7 linked regions of the Homo sapiens genome follow. The protein of the gene in region 1 purifies or fractionates together with the protein of each later gene. This does not show direct contact. Each region holds a gene or a part of one and is shown in the gene's direction. Other genes may lie near its edges.

What was found.
Region 2: the proteins of GIGYF2 (region 1) and EML4 fractionate together in Homo sapiens (co-fractionation; one large-scale study listed by BioGRID). This does not show direct contact.
Region 3: the proteins of GIGYF2 (region 1) and CAPRIN1 purify together in Homo sapiens (affinity purification with mass spectrometry, with the first as the bait; one study listed by BioGRID). This does not show direct contact.
Region 4: the proteins of GIGYF2 (region 1) and TESK2 purify together in Homo sapiens (affinity purification with mass spectrometry, with the first as the bait; one large-scale study listed by BioGRID). This does not show direct contact.
Region 5: the proteins of GIGYF2 (region 1) and KIF13B purify together in Homo sapiens (affinity purification with mass spectrometry, with the first as the bait; one large-scale study listed by BioGRID). This does not show direct contact.
Region 6: the proteins of GIGYF2 (region 1) and SIPA1L1 purify together in Homo sapiens (affinity purification with mass spectrometry, with the first as the bait; one large-scale study listed by BioGRID). This does not show direct contact.
Region 7: the proteins of GIGYF2 (region 1) and CGN purify together in Homo sapiens (affinity purification with mass spectrometry, with the first as the bait; one large-scale study listed by BioGRID). This does not show direct contact.

Annotation. Positions count from the first base shown.
Region 1 is NC_000002.12:232,843,831-232,847,330, forward strand, and holds part of GIGYF2 (GRB10-interacting GYF protein 2), read left to right. Parts: intron 1-215; coding exon 216-425; intron 426-538; coding exon 539-744; intron 745-1,901; coding exon 1,902-2,056; intron 2,057-3,500. UniProt on the Homo sapiens protein: Key component of the 4EHP-GYF2 complex, a multiprotein complex that acts as a repressor of translation initiation. In the 4EHP-GYF2 complex, acts as a factor that bridges EIF4E2 to ZFP36/TTP, linking translation repression with mRNA decay.
Region 2 is NC_000002.12:42,175,853-42,179,352, forward strand, and holds part of EML4 (echinoderm microtubule-associated protein-like 4), read left to right. Parts: intron 1-3,500. UniProt on the Homo sapiens protein: Essential for the formation and stability of microtubules (MTs). Required for the organization of the mitotic spindle and for the proper attachment of kinetochores to MTs. Promotes the recruitment of NUDC to the mitotic spindle for mitotic progression.
Region 3 is NC_000011.10:34,082,731-34,086,230, forward strand, and holds part of CAPRIN1 (caprin-1), read left to right. Parts: intron 1-94; coding exon 95-147; intron 148-224; coding exon 225-311; intron 312-3,333; coding exon 3,334-3,489; intron 3,490-3,500. UniProt on the Homo sapiens protein: mRNA-binding protein that acts as a regulator of mRNAs transport, translation and/or stability, and which is involved in neurogenesis, synaptic plasticity in neurons and cell proliferation and migration in multiple cell types.
Region 4 is NC_000001.11:45,345,774-45,348,163, reverse strand, and holds part of TESK2 (dual specificity testis-specific protein kinase 2), read left to right. Parts: intron 1-163; coding exon 164-246; intron 247-470; coding exon 471-555; intron 556-1,101; coding exon 1,102-1,185; intron 1,186-1,384; coding exon 1,385-1,471; intron 1,472-2,169; coding exon 2,170-2,287; intron 2,288-2,390. UniProt on the Homo sapiens protein: Dual specificity protein kinase activity catalyzing autophosphorylation and phosphorylation of exogenous substrates on both serine/threonine and tyrosine residues. Phosphorylates cofilin at 'Ser-3'. May play an important role in spermatogenesis.
Region 5 is NC_000008.11:29,071,071-29,074,570, reverse strand, and holds part of KIF13B (kinesin-like protein KIF13B), read left to right. Parts: intron 1-2,254; coding exon 2,255-2,951; intron 2,952-3,500. UniProt on the Homo sapiens protein: Involved in reorganization of the cortical cytoskeleton. Regulates axon formation by promoting the formation of extra axons. May be functionally important for the intracellular trafficking of MAGUKs and associated protein complexes.
Region 6 is NC_000014.9:71,739,093-71,741,709, forward strand, and holds the end of SIPA1L1 (signal-induced proliferation-associated 1-like protein 1), read left to right. Parts: coding exon 1-69; 3' UTR 70-2,117; downstream 2,118-2,617.
Region 7 is NC_000001.11:151,524,887-151,528,386, forward strand, and holds part of CGN (cingulin), read left to right. Parts: intron 1-755; coding exon 756-904; intron 905-2,088; coding exon 2,089-2,221; intron 2,222-2,944; exon of another isoform or gene 2,945-3,052; intron 3,053-3,500. UniProt on the Homo sapiens protein: Probably plays a role in the formation and regulation of the tight junction (TJ) paracellular permeability barrier.

The DNA of each region.
Region 1 (3,500 bases):
ACAATAAAAAAAGAAGTAATTTTGCATTTCATGTTTTTATTCTCCTTTTTAATACTGTTAGCGATTTACATTTTTATTTGCAACAGCAGAATTTAATCCCATCAAGTTAATTTTATGTAGCTACTGTGTATTTACATTCCATTTAGTATACTGGATATTTATAACTATTATCTAAAAACAGGAATCCTCAGCTAGCTTCTGTTTTTATGCAACAGCAAAGGCGCCAGCAGAGGGAGTTGATGAAAGCTCTTCAGCAGCAGCAGCAACAGCAACAGCAGAAACTCTCAGGTTGGGGGAATGTCAGCAAACCTTCAGGTACCACGAAATCTCTTCTGGAGATCCAGCAGGAAGAGGCCAGGCAAATGCAAAAGCAGCAGCAGCAGCAGCAGCAACACCAGCAACCAAACAGAGCTCGTAACAATACGGTGTGTGCATTTTCCTAAGCTGTCGTTGTATGGACTAGTATTATCTTTTCTGACTGTCTTCTTATCTTTTTAACATGATTCACGATAATCATTTTTCTCTTTTTCTTTAACAGCATTCCAACCTGCACACCAGCATTGGGAATTCTGTTTGGGGCTCTATAAATACTGGTCCTCCTAACCAGTGGGCATCTGACCTAGTCAGTAGTATTTGGAGTAATGCTGACACTAAAAACTCCAACATGGGATTCTGGGATGATGCAGTGAAAGAGGTGGGACCTAGGAATTCAACAAATAAAAATAAAAACAACGCCAGTCTCAGGTAGGGCTCAAAATGACCACACCTATGCACCTTGGTTGGTTGGGAGGTGGGGATGGAGGAAGTGGGATGTTGGGTGGGCAGGAAAAGGTAGTTATTGAGTTTTTGCTTACCGTTTTCATCTGTGTTCAAGCACATGCAGTCATAATTATGGTGATTGCTTTCTTCCCCATAGAAACACATTCGTATTATTTCTTGGGGCTCCTGCTGAGCACTTATTCTATCGCCTAGCACATGGTAACCACTTAATAAATATTAGGAATAGTATAATGTTTTTGTTGTGTTGTTGAACATTTCTCCAAGGTATTCTCTAGATACCTTAGCATTTTTCCTATATTTGTATTTTTAAGTAATTTATGCTATTAATATGAGTATTATAAAATACCTCTGTAATGACCTTAAACCTATTTATTTTTATAAGTTAGTTACATTTTCATCTTCATCTTTCTTTCTTCAATATACAGTGTTGTTGAACGAGCATGGGTTTTAGTGTTAAATACATGAACTCAAATCCCAGCACTACCACTTATTAGCTGTGTGACCTTGGGCAAGAGGGAACCTCTTTGGGCCTCAGTTCCCTCATCGGTAAAATGAAGATAATAATAACAACTTTATGCATGTAATTGTAAAGATTAAATGAATACATGATAAGTAGTAAGTGCCTGGCACATAGTAACTACTTAATAAATGGTAGTGTTGTCAGATTGTTTCTTCTTGATTTAGGGCCTAACATATTATGAATAGAACAATAAATTTCTGTTAGTTTATTGAGCATCTTTGCCAGGCACTGTGCTGTAGGCCTTTTCATAGAACATCTTTATTACTTATGATAACCCAAAAAAGTTGTTAGTACCGTTTTACAGATGAGGAGACTGAGGCTTAGTAAAATTAAACAACTTACCTAAGGACACGTAGGAAGAATTTCATCATTTTTTCTAAGTAGAACCCCTGTATCCACAAATTAGGATATATTAACTGAGGCTAGATTTTAAGGGTATATCCAATCCAAATATTTGAATTTTTTTCTTTTTTGGAGCCAAGCATTGGATTATTTACTGGGCATCCATCCAGTATTGCCAAGACATTATTTATGGTGTTGTACTATAATCATATAGTAACAGTTTCTGGGAATATAATATCACCCTATTGTTTTGCTTTAGTAAATCTGTAGGTGTGTCTAACCGGCAGAATAAGAAAGTAGAAGAAGAAGAAAAGTTGCTGAAGCTCTTTCAGGGAGTAAATAAAGCCCAAGATGGATTTACGCAGTGGTGTGAACAGATGCTTCATGCCCTTAATACGGCAAATAACTTGGATGGTAAGAATTGGGGAGGGAAACCCGGCATGTGGAATGACAGAGCAGGACCCACAGAGAGGCTGGCAAATTTGAACAGTGGGCCAAAAGTCAAAAGATGAAATCTAAGGAGGTCAACTGCTGCACCTGCCATAGGAACTTGACTCTTTAATAGTATTACTTGTGAGAAAAGTCCAGTAATACTAAACTCAAATAGATTATTGGTGGTTGTCAAAAAGTAAATGCCATCTTAGACTGCCTTAATGATACACAGGACAGAGGAGGTCTTAGTTCCATACTGTTCATTTTATGGGGAACATTGCCAGCTATGTCAAGTTAAAAAAAGTAACTCTCATGCTGGGGACAAAGGTCAACCTGGACAAGTGATGGCTGAAGTGATGTGACATCATTCCCTTTCTACCTTTGGGGGAGGGAATGGGAATTGTGATAAAGCAAGTACACTTATTTTGTGTAAGATAAAACTAGGACCAATGTGCAGAAGTGAAAAGGCTTTGGCACAGTTTAGAGAAAAACTTGCTCATGGTTAGCTGTTTACAAACAGAACTGTCTCCCATCCCTGAATATTTGAAGAGAGACTGGTCAACATGTCAGGATTCCCCTAACTAATAGGCTGAATTGAATTAATCCACCTCTGATACCCTGTCTAAAGCCAAGAAACTGTGAAAAATAGCAGTAAAGGAATTAAAGAGTTCCTTTGCAGCAGTGTAACAATATCTAATGGTTTAAAAGCCTACAGAGAAAACAATTTTAAATAACAGTAATGGCTGCCATGCATTAAGCACCTACCATGTGTGCTAGGCACTCTCTTGGAGTTAACATGCAGCATCCCAGTTATTTGATTAGCAGTGATTTTTAAAGATACCTTTACAAGATAGGTGATATTATCCCCATTTTATAAATTAGGAAACAGAGGCTCAGAATGGTTAAATAACTCATCAAGGTCACACAGCCAGCAAATTTCAGAGTCAGGTTTTAAACCCATGTTTGTCTAACTCTGATACTCATGCTTTTCTCCTATACCACACACTGCTTACATTTTCCATTTGATTTCTCTCTAAAAAATCTCAGTGGATTGAAAGTTCCAGGAAGATATAGCTGTTTTCTTTAGTGTATGTTGTAGTGCCTGACACATATCATAGGAGTTAATAAATACTGATTGAATTTGAGGGTTCTTAAGGAAAGAATGAATCCCCAAATTACTTCAGCCTTAGTCAAGTAACTGTTTCAGTCAGTATAACATTCAGTGAAATTAAACATGTGGTATGGATGTTGTGATTATAGTGTTTTTTTCATTTCTATAGGGTAGATAAAAGAATATTTAAACACAATTGCTGCATACTTACCAAGTGTCTGTCATTAATGTTTGATTAGGTATAAAGATACATTAAAAATGGAAACTGATTTTTGTAAGTTCTCTTTCATTATTTCATTGTTACCCTTATCTTCT
Region 2 (3,500 bases), about 190 Mb from region 1:
ATTATCTTTAGCCCATTTGTATGCAGCTGATGTTAACATGTTAATGTACTTGTTCTTAGTCTTTTCCTATGCTTAGTTTTTTAATAGTTAAAATCATACTGCAGACATAATTTTGCATTCTGTTTTTTTCGTTGGATCCTAACCTTTTTTTTTTTTTCCCACTTGAACTCAGATTTTTCTGATGGAGTCCAGTGGTCTTTTCTCTACTCCAATACTGACTCTTTATAACCCTCAGGTACATACCTGAATCTGAACTTCTCTCCTGAATCAGCTTCTTTTCCTTATTTCCCACTGACTGTATCACCCAGTTTGAAATTTCAGAATCATGTTTTGATTCTTTGCCATTTTTGCCTAGGGCATTAGAATCTCTTCTAAGACTTGTCAATTCTTGTCACCTTTTCTCATCCCTTTTCTTTTCCACCGCTATAGTTCAGGTACTTATTATTCGATGCGTGGATTATTGCATGGCGTCGAGAATCTCCACCTGTCCAGTTTATTTTGTACAGGGCCCTCAGATTTATCTTCCTAAAGCCATGCTTTGATTGTGCTATTCACCCTCTCAGATTGCTTCATTGCTTTAATGACTACATTCAAACATCTTAGCCTCTTAACATCTTCTCAAGTCCTCTGTCATCTCTTTCTACTGTCTTACCATGTTCTGACCAAAATGACCTATTTCTTATTCCTCACATTTTCATCTTTTCATCCTGATGACTATTCTCAGTACCCTTCAAGGCTCAACTCAAATATTATTTCCTTTCTAAAAATGTTTACTTCTTTTCATTCCCAGCCCAAAGTATTCTTCCGTGAACACTTGATAGGACCACTCTTGGGGTACTTATTGCAGAATGTTTATTCCAATAGTTATAAGGTGAAAGTAATTATTACAGATCTTACAATTGTTATGTCTTATTTCCCTGAGCCAAATTGGTTTTATTTTTATTTATTTATTTTTTTATGAGACAGAGTTTTGCTTTGTCGCCCAGGCTGGAGTGCAGTGGTATGATCTCAGCTCACTGCAACCTCTGCCTCCTGGGTTCAAGGAATTCTCCTGCCTCAGCCTTCCGACTAGGTGGTGTTACAGGTGTATGCCACCACACCCAGCTAATTTTTGTATTTTTAGTAGAGACGGGTTTCACCATGTTGGCCAGGCCTGTCTCAAACTCCTGACCTCAAGTGATCTGCCCGCTGAGGCCTCCCAGAGTGCTGGGGGATTGCAGGTACCATGCCTAAGCCAAATTATAAACCTCTTGAAGGCTGTATTGAAGGTTTTATTGAAGGCTGAAACTCTCATGTGTCTTTGAAGTCTTGCAGTGGAGATTTCATGATCCAGTAAAATGTGGAGGAAATAAATTAGGGACTAGTATATAGTTGACAACTTAACAACCTTCACTTTCATACCTCTTTTTTTTTTTAAAGAAATGACATTTGAAGACCAAAAGATTGTAATACACAATCTCAGAATAAAAAATTGTAAAATTACTTTGAAAATTAAATATGGCTCACGCCTGTAATCCCAACAGTTTGGGAGGCTGAGGCGGGCGGCTCACTTGAGCTCAGGAGTTTGAGACCAGCCTGGGCAACATGGTGAGAACCCGTCTCTACCAAAAGTACAAAAAAATTAGCCAGGCATGGTGGTGCACGCCTGTGGTCCCAGATACTCGAGAGGCTGAGGTGGGAGGATTGCTGGAGCCTGGGAGGTGGAGGTTGCAGTGAGCGCAGATCACACTACTGGGCTCCAACCTGGGTGACACAGCGAGACCCCGTCTCAAACAAGCAAACAGACAAACAAAAACTCATTATGTTCTTATTTCTCATTTCACCTGAAATAAGTGAAATGTTCTAGACTTTATTGGGAATCTGATAAAGAATTCTGTGCCAGATTCTAGGGTATTTTCAAGTACAAGTCATGTGCATGACCTGTTAATGGTTTTTGAAATCAGTTTAGTCGTGGTCAGGACCAACATTAGAAAAATGAGGAGAAGAGGAAGAGATAATGTAAAATATCAGTACTTCGTGTGATATTGCTTCATGGAACATTTAATTTCAGTTACATATATTTGTCTTAGATTTCAGTGTAAAATTTCTGTTGGTCACAATCAGATGAAAGATACATTTTTAGTGGCTAATCCCTATCTTTGAGAGAATAGGTGGAAAGGTTGACATACATGAAAAGGTGGATGAACAATCAGAAGTAATCATTGCGGGCTATGTCTTTGACAAGTTTTTAGAATCTGAATATAATTAGAATATGTTTAACAGCAGCAGCAGCAGAAAGATATTTATTAGTTGTAGAATCAGTGTAATTCAGGCAAACTCAGTATGTAAAGAAGTGATTTTATAAAATTGGTAGGGCTAGGGTATGTTTACCTTGCAAATCAATTCTTTACTTTGAAAGAGAATTTTCAGGCCAGGTGGTATAGCTCACACCTATAATCCTAGCACTTTGGGAGGCCAGGGTAGGAATATCACTTGAGGCCTGGAGTTCAAGACCAGTCTGGGCAACATAGTGAGACCCTGTCTCTACCAAAAAAAAAAAACAAACAAAAATTAGCTGAACGTGGTGGTGCATGCCCAGCTCCTTGAGAGGCTGAGGTGAGAGGATCGCTTGAGCCCAGGAGGTGGAGGCTGCAGTGAGCTATGATATGCCACTGCACTCCAGCCTGGGCAGCAGAGCGAGCAGCGAGACCCTGTCTCAAATAAGAAAGAGGATTTTCCTTGTTTGTAGTGTGGTGAGTATCCCCCGTGTGGTGCCTGTCACGTGAGAGATCCCTGGGAGCCAAAAACAACAACTGCAAAAAAGAGGATTTACCATATTGCTGTATTTTATTTTTAAGCTGATCTGATGGAGTTGTCTGTGTCTTGACTGGTTCCCCACTTATTTGCTGAAATACATTTTTTCCCCAGGAAGCTGTCCCTGATTGGTACACTCAAACCATTGCACTATAGCGCTTCTAAAGTGGAGGGGGCTGAGCACTTACACCTAAGGGATCTGGGAGTGTAGGCAAAAGTTGAAATCTATTTAACTTTAAAATTTATATGATTGTTTTGCATCCATTATAATAAAGATTTGTTTAGACAGGAATCATCAATAGGTGCTAAATCTAGGGGGATATTTTGGTGAGAAGCAGGTTGTCTGCATGGTCTTAAATTTCCCCCCATATAATGCTTATTACTTGTAAGGGGGGGAAACAGTAACTCAATATGGTGGTGAAATCAGACAACACCTTGTGTGCATGATCAAAATAAATATCACCAATGGATTTGTGTGTCTCTGCATGTGATACCCAGAAAAGAGCACATCAGTTACAGTGTTTTTCAGCCATGAATTCATAGCCTGAATCTAATCATGAGGAAATTTTAAACTCCAGATGGGGAACATCCTATTTTTTAAAACGTCGGGGAGCTGGGTTTTTTTTTTTTTTTTAATATTATAAAGACAAAGTCTGTGGAAACATTCCAGACTAAAGAAGACTTAAGAGATGTGGTAACTAAATGAA
Region 3 (3,500 bases), on another chromosome or scaffold:
GCATAATGACGTGTATCTACCAATATCACACAGAGTAGAGTAGTATCACTGACCTAAAAATCCTTTTGTTTTGCACCATTTTTTAACCTCTTAGAACCTGAGCCAGCAGAAGAGTACACTGAGCAAAGTGAAGTTGAATCAACAGAGGTATGATTTTAATTTAATGCTGCCTTTACTTTGCTGCCTTTCAAACAAATGTCTCAAACATTTACTTTGCTTTGCAGTATGTAAATAGACAGTTCATGGCAGAAACACAGTTCACCAGTGGTGAAAAGGAGCAGGTAGATGAGTGGACAGTTGAAACGGTTGAGGTAAGAGTTCTCTGTATTGCAAAGTTGTTGTCTTTGTCTTCAGTTAGTAATTTTTATCTCTACTGAGAACAAATTAAGATTGTTTTTTGCATTATTAGTACATTTATTATAATAACAGACTCATTACACCAGACTGTTACTTCCAAAAAATGAATGTTTATCCCTGTGGATGTTTAATAGGATCCCTGCTTTGCTGAACCAATCTAAAAAAATTATTTTATACAAAGTTATCTGTGGATTAATCTGTTACCATGATTTGTCTCTTACTGAAATTAGGTTGCTCTGTAAAAATCTGGGCTCCCACACTGATAGCTGTGTTTTGGGGTATCATCTTGCACTCCTCCTTTACCCTAATGCTGTTTGGTCACCAGGCTGTAGACTTCCTCTAGCGTTTTCTAATGCTGTCTCTCAACTGATAATGATGATTTTTTTCGGGTCCTCATGTCTAGTTCAGTGACTCTCTTCATATTACTCCTCTCTGACTGCCTCCAGACCATCCTATTCATTGTCACAACTTAATTATTGGAAAAGTTAGCTTTAAGTTACTTGTACTTGAGGCTCTCAGTGATGCCTTGTTACCTGTAAGATACAGTCTAAAAACCTTACCAACTGGTCCTGGCCTTCCTTTTGATCTTCTTTTAGATGTCTTTCTTTACACCCCCAAGGTGCAGGAAAATAGCTGTAAGCTGAGGGTAATATGCTTTTCCTTTTAATATGTTATTCTTATATCAAGACCATTCTCTTGGCCGGGCACGGTGGTTCATGCCTGTAACCCCAGCACTTTGTGGGGCTGAGGCAGGTGGATCACATGAGGCCAAGAGTTAGAGACCAGCCTGGCCAGCATGGTGAAACCCAGTCTCTACTTCAAAAACAAACAAAAACCTGGGCATGGTGGTGCATGCCTGTAATCCCAGCTACTTGGGAGGCTGAGGTACGAGAATCACTTGAACTGGGGAGACAGAAGTTGTAGTGAGCTGAGATCGTGCCACTGCATTCCAACCTGGTTGACAGAGACTCTGTCTCAAGAAGAAAAAAACCCATTTTCCAAAGAGATTGCAAAGTTTTTTTTTTTTGAGAGTCTCACTCTTGCCCAGTAGAGATGGGGTTTCACCATTTTGGCCAGGCTCGTCTTGAATTCCTGACCTCAAGTGATCTGCCCGTTTCAGCCTCCCAAAGTGCTGGGATTACAGTCATGAGCCACTGCGCCTGGCCCATAGATGTTATAATTGTGCCAGCAACTTCATCCCTCTGTTGGAGCACCAAAATGTCCCATTGGTAAGGTAAAGAGAGTAGGCACTTACCCCAGAAAGGTACTTGGGATGAAAATACTGCTCAGGAAGTCCCAACAAAATAGTGTATATTTGCTGAATTAAAGAATGCAGTTCAGAAATGTTATAGGAGGATTAGAAGAGAAATCAATCAAAAAGATTAGTAGAGGTGATTTACAGTTGTTCCTTGTTATACCAGGGGCATTGGTTTTAGGACACTCCCACACACCGAAGTCTGCTCATACTCAAGTTGTGCCATGTATCTGCGGGACCCACATATATACAGGTGTTTCACATCTCAAGAGTACTGGAGGATAAGTGAACCTGTGCAGTTCAAGCCCATGTTGTTCAAATGTCAGCTGTATATATGAGGTGTACAAACCCATTGAGCCTTGACTAAGTCGATGGGATGTATGTTTTTAGGGGAGCCAGGTAATAGGGATGTATAGCATGGATGTAGAAGTAGAAATGAACTATTAACATATTTGTTTTATTGAACATAGAATGCAAGGTAAATATTGACATAGTAGGAAGAAGTTGGGAAGCAGTATACAGTGCTTTGTAGTTAAGTATTTTTTGGATTTTATTTGAGAAGAGCATACTACTTGCCACTGTGCCAGTGTGGTTTGTTCTTTGTATCTAGTAGGTGGGCCTTTCTAAAGGCTATCCACATGAGATTCCACGAATTTTTGGAGCATCCTGAAGTTGGTATTACACAGATTGTTGGTTTCGCTTTGGTAGTGATTTTTATCTGTGTTGTTTATAAAGGGAATAGCTGATTTTGCCTAGTTTCAACCAGTATGACTTGTCCAGTTTTAAATCCAGACAGAATAATATAAATTTGATGTAATAAAAGATAGGATTTCCTTGCAGAGCAGGGAATTACTAAGAACAATAAGCAGAGGAAATTATTAGAGCTGGGAAAAGGCTAATAGAGTGAGCTTTGGCTTCTGTAGCAGTTTAGATGAGTTGGTAAAGCTTGATCCTATGGTGTTGGCTGAGAAAATGGAATGGGAAAAACCCAAATCTTGATGATAATAATAGCTAACATTTCTTGAGTGCTATGTACCAGGTTGTGAGATAGATATATATTTGACATAGATATATAAATCCAGTTACTATAGAAGGCATAACAGTTTTAAGAAAAATACATTATTTTAGGATGTAAACACAGGTAATCTTTCTTTGAAAGCAGCTTATAAAATAAATCTGAGGCTGGGCATGGTGGCTCATGCCTGTATTCCCAGCACTTGGGATGCCAAGGCGGGTGGGTCACAAGGTCAGGAGTTCAAGACCAGCCTGGCCAATATGGTGTGAAACCCTGTCTCCGCTAAAAATACAAAAATTAGCCGGGTGTGTTGATGGGTGCCTGTAATCCCAGCTACCTGAGAGGCTGAGGCAGGAGAATTGCTTGAACCCGGGAGATGGATGTTGCAGTGAGTCGAGATCCCGCCACTGCTGTCCAGCCTGGGTTACAGAGCTAGATTCCGTCTCGAAAGAAAAAAAAATAAATAAATAAGTAAATCAACATGAAATGCTACATAGTGGTCTTATGGAACTGAAACACTGTAGAAGTGATGACATTTTTCAGAATGTTAAATTTGGCATAAATGTAATTCATTTGGGTAACTGCATTAAAGCCCGTTCTGTTTATAGTATAGATGGTTTATGTAGTGTGGGGGACCCATCATGGTGGTAGTGAGTGGAGCTTTTTTGCTCTCCTATTCCTTCTAATCCTTTTTTTTCTACCTTAGGTGGTAAATTCACTCCAGCAGCAACCTCAGGCTGCATCCCCTTCAGTACCAGAGCCCCACTCTTTGACTCCAGTGGCTCAGGCAGATCCCCTTGTGAGAAGACAGCGAGTACAAGACCTTATGGCACAAATGCAGGGTCCCTATAATTTCATACAGGTATGTTCATT
Region 4 (2,390 bases), on another chromosome or scaffold:
TCTTAGAGCCCCTGACCTGACCAGTGGGGTCAGCTTGAGTGCGGTTCACCAAGGAGCAGAGGACAAGGTGCCCTGTGATAGGAAGGGGGGAATGGGTGGTAACTCTATGGCTGATCCCCGCTTCTGAGCCACATTATTTTCTCTTCCTTCCTGGGAACCCTAGAACTGCCTGATAAAGAGGGATGAGAATGGTTACTCTGCAGTGGTAGCTGACTTTGGCCTGGCTGAGAAGATCCCCGATGTCAGGTGTGTAGCCCTACTGGATGCTGGGGTCCAAGGGACAGGGGGCTGAAGCTAAGGGAAAATTCTAGCCTCCTCCCCAGAGGCCAGGACTTGGTCACAGCTCAACCTCAGCTCCCTAAATTTGTTTAGTCCTCGTCTGTACCCATCCTTGAGGTGGAGGAATGGTCAAAAGATTCCATTGCACCAGCCATTGGCAAGCTCATTTTCTGTATAATCTCACCCCACAGCATGGGGAGTGAGAAGCTGGCCGTGGTGGGTTCCCCATTCTGGATGGCACCTGAGGTTCTCCGAGATGAGCCCTATAATGAAAAGGTAAGTTTGGAGGATCTCAAGGCCTGATTCTCCTTTTTTCTTTTTCTTTTTTTTGAGATGGTCTCACTATGTTGCTCAGGCTGGAATGCAGTGGCACGATCTCGGCTTACTGCCTCCCGAGTTCAAGCTATTCTCCTGCCTCAGCTTCCCAAGTAGCTGGAATTACAGGCATGCACCACCACGCCCAGCTAATTTTTTTATTTTTAGTAGAGACAGGGTTTCACCATATTGGCCAGGCTGGTCTCAGACTCCTGACCTGAAGTGATCTGCCCACCTCGGCCTCTTGAAGTGCTGGGATTACAGGCATGAGCCATCGCGCTCGGCTGATTCTCCCTAGAATCCACTCTTAGCAGAGTGTCCAAGATGTTCCTACCAAGAGCAGTGGTGGTACCTGGCAGCTGCCCAGTGACTGACTGGGATGAAGTATGGGCAATATGGCCCAGGCCTGGGCTGTTAGATGGTGGGGTGCAGGGGAGGCAGGGGCAGGGGCAGATACCCTACCCCTCAACCCATTAAGAGGGAAACCAAAGTCCGACTACCCACCAGGCAGATGTGTTCTCTTATGGTATCATCCTCTGCGAGATCATCGCCCGCATCCAGGCCGATCCGGACTATCTTCCCCGCACAGAGGTGAGCTGCAAGCATGGGGATCATTGCCACTGATGGGGCTAGTTTGAAGCAATGGAACTGTTCTGTCCCTGGGATGGACTTGCTGGAACTCTCTGTTGCTGGTTGTCAGGGGCAGCTCCCAACCACTTCTACTGAGCAGGCTAGGATGGGTGGGGGGATTAATGAACTGTCTACCTATGCTTTCCATACCCATCCACAGAATTTCGGGCTGGACTATGATGCTTTCCAGCACATGGTGGGAGACTGTCCCCCAGATTTTCTGCAACTTACTTTCAACTGCTGTAACGTGAGTGTCTTTCTCCCTCTGCCTTTCATCAGGGGCTGGCTGAACCCTTTTCACCTGGTTAGGACTGTACAGAGAGGCTGCTAATTAGCTTCATGAGGGACCTCATTTTCACTGTAGTGACAGCAACCACACCTCCTCCTCCTCCCTCTGGCAGCTAACCTATTCAGAGCTCTGGACAAAGGAAAGAAAGAAGTTGTTTTGTATTATCTGGTCCTCAACCTGTAGGGTAGACCCATCACTCCTTGCGTTAGGTGTTGATGGAACTCTGGTCCGGTTTTATTGTTGGACTGTGGATCCAACTGGTCCTGAGGCATATGAGAAAGGCTCTTCTTGGCCTTCATGTATGTAGCTCTGGGGCTGGACCTTACCTGTTAGGATCAAGGGGTAGGTGGGCTTTGTTCAGATACCTCCCAGAAACACATTAGGAGCAGAACTCAAGAACAGAATAAACTAATATGAGCATACTTTTGGAAGGTTCTGTGACAAGGTGATAAGACAAACACTAAGACAGGGAGGGTAGTAGACAGTAGTGTTTTCCCTGACCTGAACTGTAGGGATCACCTTCATTGTCTGGGGCCTTTAGAAAAGGTCTCTCAGCTGCACATCTGAATCTTCAAAGATGCCAGAAATAGACTCAAATGCCATCTTTGGGGTGGGAGATGGAGGGCAGAGCTCATGGCTGTTGTGGATACCTACAGATGGATCCCAAACTGCGCCCATCTTTTGTGGAGATTGGGAAGACCCTGGAGGAAATTCTGAGCCGCCTACAGGAAGAAGAGCAGGAGAGGGATAGGAAGCTGCAGCCCACAGCCAGGGGTAAGAGATTAGACCAGGGAGCCCAACCTAACCCTAAGGGAGGAAATTCGGATGTGGGGCCTTCTCCTCTTAGGGTTGTGATTGCCAGGATCCCAGGTCCAGA
Region 5 (3,500 bases), on another chromosome or scaffold:
TGGTCAGAGCAAGCCCCTTGCCAGTGAAGGCAGCAGCTTCTGTAGCTCATCATGGTGGTTTTCCAAGCTTGGGCTTTTGCAGAAGTCTCCAGAAATGTCTTCTTCAGTGGCAAGGGTATAATCCATAGATGGCATCTGGGTTTCAACTCACAAATCAACTCCAGTCAAGTGGGGATGGGGCCTGGAGTGCCAGTCTGTGCTTTCCACCATCCTGCTCCCTGCTTTGTTGACTCTGCAGCTCTGCCCCCAGTGCCTGCCTTTTCACTTAGTGCAGCCTTGGATGAGGGCTTTCCCCTCTGGAGGCCTGCTGTAGAATAATGCCATGATCCTTCCAGCCCAGCCCAAGCCAGTGTCTTACATGGAAGCCAATGGGATGATGATACTTGCAAATCTGAGGCATGCAGCTGGCCTCATCCTGGGAGAGCCTGGCCTGGGGAAGTGACAGTGGCTGGCCTTACCCGGGGTGGGGGCGGGGAACAGAAGCCATTTCAGGACCCTGGTTACCGTTCAGATTCCCGGCTCTCATAGTTTTGCGTATTCTCCCCTGTTGGGTCAGTGATATTAAAACTAAAATAGAAGAGAATAAATAAAACATGGACAATGTGCAAAGGAAGAATGATTGAAGGATTGCCTAATCTTTTAGAGTATTTATGCTGGTGACAGTTATTGATCTATTGGATTGAGTAAATTTTGCAGCCTAGAGATTCACCACAAAAATGGGCTGTTAATCTCAAGAGGTGCCATTAATTTCCTACCCTGAAAGTGTGGTTGGTGGGGAAAAGAGGGCCCCTGGAAACGGGAATATAAAGGACAGTTCCTGGGAAAACGCATGATTTATCAAGCTGCTGAGGTAAGCCAAGTAACTGTAAGAGACGTATAGATCTCAGCCGCTTCCCCATTCAAATAAATCCCGTATTTCAAATGGAAAATGACCATTCCTGTAATATAAATAATTTTTCCATAAATATCGGAAAACATATTTCTTCTGGATAGCAGTGCTCTCCACCCCACCAATCTCATTCCCTGTTCCTGCCTTCTCCTTTTCTTCGGTCACTGTGAATAGGAATAGAAAGATGATCTGGCAGCCTCTTCACATGGCTTCAGTTATAGATGAAAGAATGCCCCAGAAACAATAGGATTTGGGCAAGCGGTGGCTGCTCTCCCCCATGAGATGTGGGCTTTGAGTGTGTGTGTGTCCTCTGCCTGGGTGACTCAGACAGAGTGACCGACATGAGGAGAGCTGCTGGCCTCACTTGGTGGCTTCTCCCTGGGGGCTGCTTCCTGGCCTCTCTCCAGGGTCCGAGGCCCCCCCAGCCCCTGACATGGCACCTGCTTTCCATAGCAGCCAGAGCAGCAGCCTTGGAGAGAAAGGGCCACGGCCCACAGGGAGCCTTTGTCCCCTCCTCATCCCCCTCCTCGTCCCCCTCCTCGTCCCCCTCCTCGTCCCCCTCCTCGTCCCCCTCCTCGTCCCCCTCCTCATACCCCTCCTCGTACCCCTCCTCGTCCCCCTGCTGCCTTGCTCGGGATGCCCAGCCAGGCTGCAGGCCCGTGGCTCCTTGTTGGTGCCTGAGCTGGCCAGGCTGTGCTGAGTGTGTTCCGGTCCTCCGATGAGATCATTGTTTAGGTTTTGCCGGACAAAAAAGTGCTCTTCTGGTCTCTTTAGTGACTCAGTCTCTTCGTGAGGTTGGGGGTGGGCAGGGGCTTTGTCTCCATGGGAGGAAAGCTAACTAGCCCTAGCAGGGTTTTAGCGTGCACCTACTGTGTGCTGCCCTCTGTGGCGAGGGGCCTTGGTCTTTGTAGCGTGCTGGCCCTGCATGGCAGGCCCTGGATTCTATTTTGTATGAAAGGTAAAAAGTAGATGGGGCAGGGGCTGTGGCCATGGTCAGTGCTCTTGAGCCTGGGCACACAGCACAGGGCCTGCGGGGTGCACTGTCGGCCCCTCAACCTTTATCACTTTGGAAGCCAGGGCCATGCAGCCCTAAGTGGCAGAACCAGTGTGGGAACCAGGGCCTGGCCGGGTCCCAGCCATGTTCTTTATTTATTTATTTTGTCGAAACGGGGTCTCACTATGTTGCCCAGGCTGTTCTTGAACTCCTGGGCTCAAGCGATCTTCCGTCTTGCCCTCCATAAGCACTGGGGTTACAGGCTGAGCCACTGCCCCTGGCCTCATGCTCTTTTCCAAGTCAAAGCTGCCTGCTTGGTTCGTGTTGGAAAGTTTTCTGTTCTCAGCCCCTGCTTCCCCGTCCTGCTGCAGGCTCAGCCGGAGATGGGCCCTGACGTGCTGGTGCAGACGATGGGGGCCCCGGCCTTGAAGATCTGCGACAAACCTGCCAAAGTGCCTTCCCCACCGCCTGTCATAGCTGTCACAGCGGTCACCCCGGCTCCGGAGGCACAGGACGGGCCCCCCAGCCCCCTGAGTGAAGCCTCTAGCGGGTACTTCTCCCACAGCGTCTCCACCGCGACCCTGTCGGACGCCCTGGGCCCCGGCCTGGACGCTGCGGCCCCGCCGGGGTCCATGCCCACCGCCCCTGAGGCCGAGCCCGAGGCGCCCATCAGCCACCCCCCACCGCCCACGGCCGTCCCCGCCGAGGAGCCCCCTGGCCCCCAGCAGCTCGTGAGCCCCGGTCGGGAGCGCCCCGACCTCGAGGCCCCGGCGCCCGGCTCCCCGTTCCGCGTCCGGAGGGTGCGGGCCTCGGAGTTGCGCTCCTTCTCGCGCATGCTGGCTGGGGACCCCGGCTGCTCCCCGGGGGCCGAGGGGAATGCGCCGGCCCCGGGCGCCGGGGGACAGGCCCTGGCCTCTGATTCCGAGGAAGCTGACGAGGTCCCGGAGTGGCTCCGAGAGGGCGAGTTCGTCACCGTGGGCGCCCACAAAACGGGCGTGGTGAGATACGTGGGGCCTGCCGACTTCCAAGAGGGCACGTGGGTCGGCGTGGAGCTCGACCTGCCCTCAGGTGGGTACCGGGCACTCCGGGCTCCAGGGTGGTGCCGGGGGTCTGGGGAAGCAGGAACGTGGCCGGCCTGGGAGGGGACAGGGTCCGGGCAGGAGAGGGAGGGGCCGGGAGGCAGCGGCTTGGCTGAAGCTGCGGGAGCGGCTGGGCCTGCAGGGGTGAGGCTGGGGGCAGGGCTAGTCCCTGGAGACGACATGGAAAATTCCTGATGATTTTGGCTACAAAGATCCTGTACCCATCCCCCCATCGCCATGGCTGTTCCCGCTTTTGTTCCGGTCTCCCCTGCCCTCTGCACTCCCTGGGCTCTGCTTTCTCATCCTTCACCTTAGAGCATCTCCCCTTTGCCGTTCCAGGAGGCTCTTCCTCACCCCATCCGGACACATCTCGCTGGCCTCTGACTCGCCCTCATTTGGCAGTTTTGCCAGTTTCCATTTCATAGATTCAGCAAAAGAACCATTCTCCCGCCACCCAGCCCAGGCCTGGGTCCAGATGGAGAAGGGTCTGTTCCCGCACGAGGCGGGCCGGTTGTGCCTTAGTGGCTGGCCTGCACCT
Region 6 (2,617 bases), on another chromosome or scaffold:
TCCCAGAACGCCTCGGACAAGCTGAAGAAGTTCACAGAATGGGTCTTCAACACCATAGACATGAGCTAGGGAAGGCTGAGGAGGACAGGAGAAGGGCCCAGACACTCCCTCCAGTGAGTGTCCTGCAGCCCTTATTCCCTCCATAGAAAGCATCCTCAGAGCACCTTCCCTGGCTTCCTACTCTGCCCCCTTTCGGGGAGTGCACAACACAATAGTTGCAGATCAACAATCATCACCTGCCTTTTGTAGAAAAGAAAAACAAAAAAAGTAAATAAAAATTTTAAACAGTAAAATAAAAGTTTAACTGCTAAAATGTGAATGTCTTTATTTTTTTGCACAATATCTTTATCTGTTATGTATTTAAGAAGAAACTGGGCCTTGGACCAGGGCGCCCCCTGGCCCATCCGCCTCTATTCCCATCAGCTTTCTTATCAACTTCAGGTAACCCAAGCTTTCCCTTGTTATTCTAACAAATATCATTATTCCTAGAAAAAGAATGTTTTTATAACTTGTTTGGGGAGTAGAGAGGGATATTTCCTTACCTTCTTCCCTAAAATGCCTGGAGAGGGAGTTGCTTTGAGAAAATGCCTACCTCCCTTGAATGACTCGTGCATGAGCTAGTGCTGTCTGTACCTGTCCTCCAGAGATCAGCAGGACCGGAGTTAAATATTTAACAGCAAGTCTGTAAACCAGAGCAGCTCTGACAGTGCCTGCAGGCCACACCCCTTCTCAGTCCTGCATTGTGAGGTCATTTCCTGCTTCTCCCTTTCCCCAGGAAGATGGTCCCACTTGTGCTGCAAGACTCTTTTTTGTTTGGCTTAATTGAGCCCCACTAAATTGGAATCAATCTCTCTTACAGCTTCCTGGCTCCAAACATTAATTGATTTCAGAATTCCCCCAAACTAAAACCTTATCTGTCTGCATTTTGAATGCATTTTGGTCAAAAGTATACGTTTTAAAGATTTTTAAAGATAAAAATGTGGCACAACTGGTTTTTTTAGCTTGCTGAAAATGACCATATCTCTAAATTAATCTTTCTCTCCAGAGCAAGACTTCACCAGTATTTGTAACTAGGAGAAGCTAACAGTGAATGTTTAATTGTGAATTTTAATCATTGCTTGTTAGGAATAATGACTGTGATACTAGAATGGGCTTTTGAAACCTGCATGTCCCAGTGTGAAATTTCAGCACGGCATTTTCTGCATCCTTTCATGGCCATCCAAAGGATTCCGCTGCAGAAATTATTGATGTGCTATTTTTGCTGTCTTGTGATGCAGGCTGCTTTGGGCCCCTGGGTCACTCTTCCAAGGCTGCTGTAGAGCACAGAGACATGGGGCTGGCCAGTGTTGACTGACCTGAGGAGACCCCTTTGTTTGTTGCCTTCATAACTGTCACTAAACCGACCCCTCTGCCCTTTCAGTGGCAACTCTGGTCTAAGGGAACATTCAGCACTCTAGCGGCATCTGATTGGAAGTTCCCTCACCCAAGTAATCTCAATTCCTTCCTCTCTCCATCCCTGAAAGAAACAGGATGGATTTTCCTCTCTTCTCCCTGCTACATTCACTACCAGATTTTTATGCTACAGTTTCATTCTTGATTGTGATTTCTCCATGGAATTTTTTTTTTCTGGTGACATTTCTATCATGGAAATAGGAAGATTTCGGAGTGCTTTGTGAAGATTTCAATTGTCTGTCTCTTTCTCTCTTTGACTTGTATGAAGGAGATTGTACATTGCCTGATATCTCTTTGTAAATGAGAAATATTGCTAACATCCAAGCATTCTGAAGTCTTGCTTATCCTTCTGAGTTTAGTTCTCATTTTGTTTTACATTTTGTTTGGGGACTTGGGGCAAGCTATTTATTAGAGTTTTGCAACAGAGTTCTTGTTTGAAGCCTCTAAAGACTACCTGTAAAATTCAAAGAATAAAATTCATTTTAAACGCTCTTTTAAAACACTTTGGTATTATTGCTTGAGGTTTGCTTATTTGAAAGACCACCCAATAACTCATTGACCCTCCTTGCATCCGAATTTTTTCATCAAGCTTTGTTAACACTAATGATGATTCTTGAAAATTTCTGTCCTTCTCAGAATGTTAATAAACTTTTTTACTCTGTCCACATGTCGATAGAGAATTACTATTTTGCCTTCTCTGCTTATGATTTAATATTTGCAGAGCACTTCATAATTAGCTTCCCCTTCATTATCCACGCATGGATTTTTCATAACATTGTTATTCTCTGAGACCAGCACATTTTTGGGCTGCATCTCCCAGCTCTCAATGTCAGATGTTGTGTGCCCAGGGAATACAAATGCCTGTTAATATTAGGCTGTGCAAAATATAATTAGAAAAGTTAATCTACTGAAAAAAAAATCAGTGCATTCCAAAGTCAAACCGAACCAATTTTTTTTTAATCTACCACGTCACTGTTCCTCTCCAGCGGCGCAGCTAATTGAGTGCTGACAGTAGAGTTTCTTCCTTTTATTTGGTTCAACAGTTCTACAGATTCCAGAGTTCTTGGACTAGCATAAGAATGGATGCCACAAAATATTCCAATTAACAAGCTAAAAAGGTCTGTTTAGACCATGATTCCTACATGGTTCGGAGGGCTTATACGTT
Region 7 (3,500 bases), on another chromosome or scaffold:
GCATGTGACAAGAGCAGGGTCTGAGAGAGGAGGGCACTGCTGGAGAACAAGGCTGCCTTGGGATCTTGGACTTTTGGACTTTTCATGGTTGCAACTGGGAACTCCCCCTCTCCTCCTAAAGGACACAGTGAGATCTGCTGAAAACCTTGGGCAGGAAAACTATAGGGGCAGAGGGAGGGAGTACAGGCCAGAAGTACCTTGAGGTTGTGTGACAAAAGTCCCAAGGGGGACTGGGTGCGGTAGCTCATGCATGTAATCCCAGCACTTTGGGAGGCTGAGGCGGGTGGACTGCTTGAGCTCAGGAAGTTAGAGACCAGCCTGGGTAACATGGAGAAACCCCATCTCTGCCAAAAATACAAAAACTTAGCTGGGTGTAGTGATGCGTACTTGTAGTCCTAGCTACTTGGGAGGCTAAGGCAGGAGAATCGCTTGAACCAAGGAAGCGGAGGTTGCAGTGAGCCGAGATCATGCCATTGCACTTCACCCTGGGCAACACAGCGAGACTCTGTCCCCCTAAAAATAAAAAGTCCCAAGGGGAAATAACTGGGGAGGTTTCCTGTAGATGATAGAGGGGTGGACTGTGACTTGAGGAGAGAATCTCTGCTAGCATTGTACCAGGTACCACAAGAGTGTCAGGGGGTGCACCTGGCATGGTGCCCTCTGGGTCTAAGCCTTTCCTTGTACACACTCACACTTTGATTTGAAGTGACCTCTTCCCTCTGAGCCTTCTGGTGTCCAACTCTCCCCTTCTCTAGGACCATGCAGTGCTGGAGGCCGAGAGGCAGAAGATGTCAGCCCTTGTGCGAGGGCTGCAGAGGGAGCTGGAGGAGACTTCAGAGGAGACAGGGCATTGGCAGAGTATGTTCCAGAAGAACAAGGAGGATCTTAGAGCCACCAAGCAGGAGTAAGGACATTGGCCCTCTCAGAAATACCCATGATTCATATGCCACTTCCTTTCTTTTTTTTAATTTTTAATTTTAATTTTAATTTTAATTTATTTTTTGGGACAGAGTTTCGCTCTTGTTTCCCAGGCTGGAGTGTCATGGCACGATCTTGGCTCACTGCAACCTCTGCCTCCTGAGTTGAACAGATTCTCCTGCCTCAGCCTCCCAAGTAGCTGGGATTACAGGCGCATGCCACTACGCCCAGCTAATTTTTGTATTTTTAGTAGAGATGAGGTTTTACCATGTTGGCCAGGCCAGTCTCGAACTCCTGACCTCAGGTGATCTGTCCACCTTGCCTCCCAAAGCACTGGGATTACGGGTGTGAGCCGCTGCGCCTGGCCCCCTTTCTCCTTTTTTTTTTTTTTTGAGATGGAGTCACACTCTGTTGCCCAGGCTAGAGTGCAGTGGTGCAGTCTTGGCTCACTGCAGCCTCCGCCTCCTGGGTTCAAGCGATTCTCCTGCCTCAGCCTCCCGAGTAGCTGGGATTATAGGCGCCTGCCACTAGGCCTGGGTTTTTTGTATTTTTAGTAGAGACGGGGTTTCACCATATTGGCCAGGCTGGTCTTGAACTCCTGACTTCGTGATCCTCCCACCTCGGCCCCCCAAAACGCTGGGATTACAGGCGTGAGCCACTGCACCCAGTCCCTTTCTTCTTTTTTTTGAGACAGGGTCTTGCTCTGTTGCCCAGGCTGGAGTGCAGTGGCACAGTCTGGGCTCACTGCAACCTCCACCTCCTGGGCTCAAGCCATCCTCCCACCTCAGCCTCCCGAATAGGTGGGACTATAGGCATGCACCACCACACTTGGCTAATTTTTGTATTTTTTGTAGAGACGGGGTTTCATTATGTTGCCCAGGCTGGTCTTGAACTCCTGGGCTCAAGTGATCCATCTGCCTTGGCCTCCCAAATTGCTGGGATTACAGGCATGAGCCACCATGCCTGGCCCACTTCCTTTCTATCTATGGTATGCTCTTACTCTCCCATTTCTCAAACTGCTCTTTTCCACGTTCACCTTCCTTCCTCTTGAGAGTTGGTGCCCAGCGTGTTGGCCTCCAGAGAGGTGGCTTTTATTGTCATGCTAACCTCCCCCAGGCATGTGGCCTTACTCTGTTCCCTTTCCCCTTTATTTCACCTTGCCTGGCTCAGACTCCTGCAGCTGCGAATGGAGAAGGAGGAGATGGAAGAGGAGCTTGGAGAGAAGATAGAGGTCTTGCAGAGGGAATTAGAGCAGGCCCGAGCTAGTGCTGGAGATACTCGCCAGGTTGAGGTGCTCAAGAAGGTATTTGGGAATTGGGGGGCAGAATGGTAGGTAGGGGTGATGAACACCTGCCTTACCTCTCCATGAGGGCCTTCTTGCTAGTGGGGCTATCTCCTGTGTGCTTGGTTTCCAGGCCTCATCCTGCCTGCTCAGCTTGATCTCTTTCCAGCACAGCAGCACCAGTCTCCTCATTGAGCATAGAGGTTTCTAATGGAAAGTGCTCTCAGAACCCAGGTTGGGGTATAGCCAGAGGCTGCTGGCCGACTCCCAAGAGACGTCATGGGTAGCAGCATTTAGGTGGATTTGTGAAACTCCAGGATGATTTTTGCAGGCTCAGAAATCTAATTTGGTCAGCATGGCAAAAGCTGCTTTGTCTTTCAGAGGGGTCTCTAACTACATTTATGAAAAAATGTTTACCATTAGAATTTCAGTTTATTAATTTACATTGAGAAATATCATCACATGGACTGGAATACTTGTGTTGGCATGGCCTGGTTACTAATGTAACAAAACTAATTAGCAAAAGAAAAATAGCAGAGTATATGGTATTACATTGAAGATTCACTACATATTATATAACCCTTTAGCCTAATTATGGTACTTTCTGAATTTCAGAAGTAGCTAATAGCTAATAATTAGAACCAGAACTCCTATTTTAATTTTCTTTTTAAAAGAAATCAGAGCTGTGCCAGCATTTATTGTGTCACACATTTTGGTTTTATACACACACACACACACACACACACACACACGAAAGACAAGTGGCAGCTGCAGGGATTGTGCTGACCTGTTCTGTCAAAGTCTCTCCAGGTTGCTCTTGCATGCAGTTGGAGATCCCATGGCCACACTATATATATATATATATTTTTTTTTTTTTTTTTTTTTTTGAGACGGAGTCTCACTCTGTCACCCAGGGTGGAATGCAGTGGCGTGATCTCGGCTCACTGCAAGCTCCGCCTCCTGGGTTCACGCCGTTCTCCTGCCTCAGCCTCCCGAGTTGCTGGGACTACAGGCGCCCACCACCACGCCCGGCTAATTTTTTTTGTATTTTTACAAAAAAAATACACGTACTCAGTGTTTCACCGTGAAACATGGTTTCACCGTGTTAACCAGGTTGGTCTTGATCTCCTGACCTTGTGATCCGCCCTCCTTGGCCTCCCAAAGTGCCGGGATTACAGGCGTGAGCCACCGCACCCAGCCTCACACTGTATTTTTTTTAAACAACCAGCCTTACTAGCCATACCTTCATGTACTCTCCCTTCATGGTATTTTTTTTTTTATGGAGTTATATTTTACATGC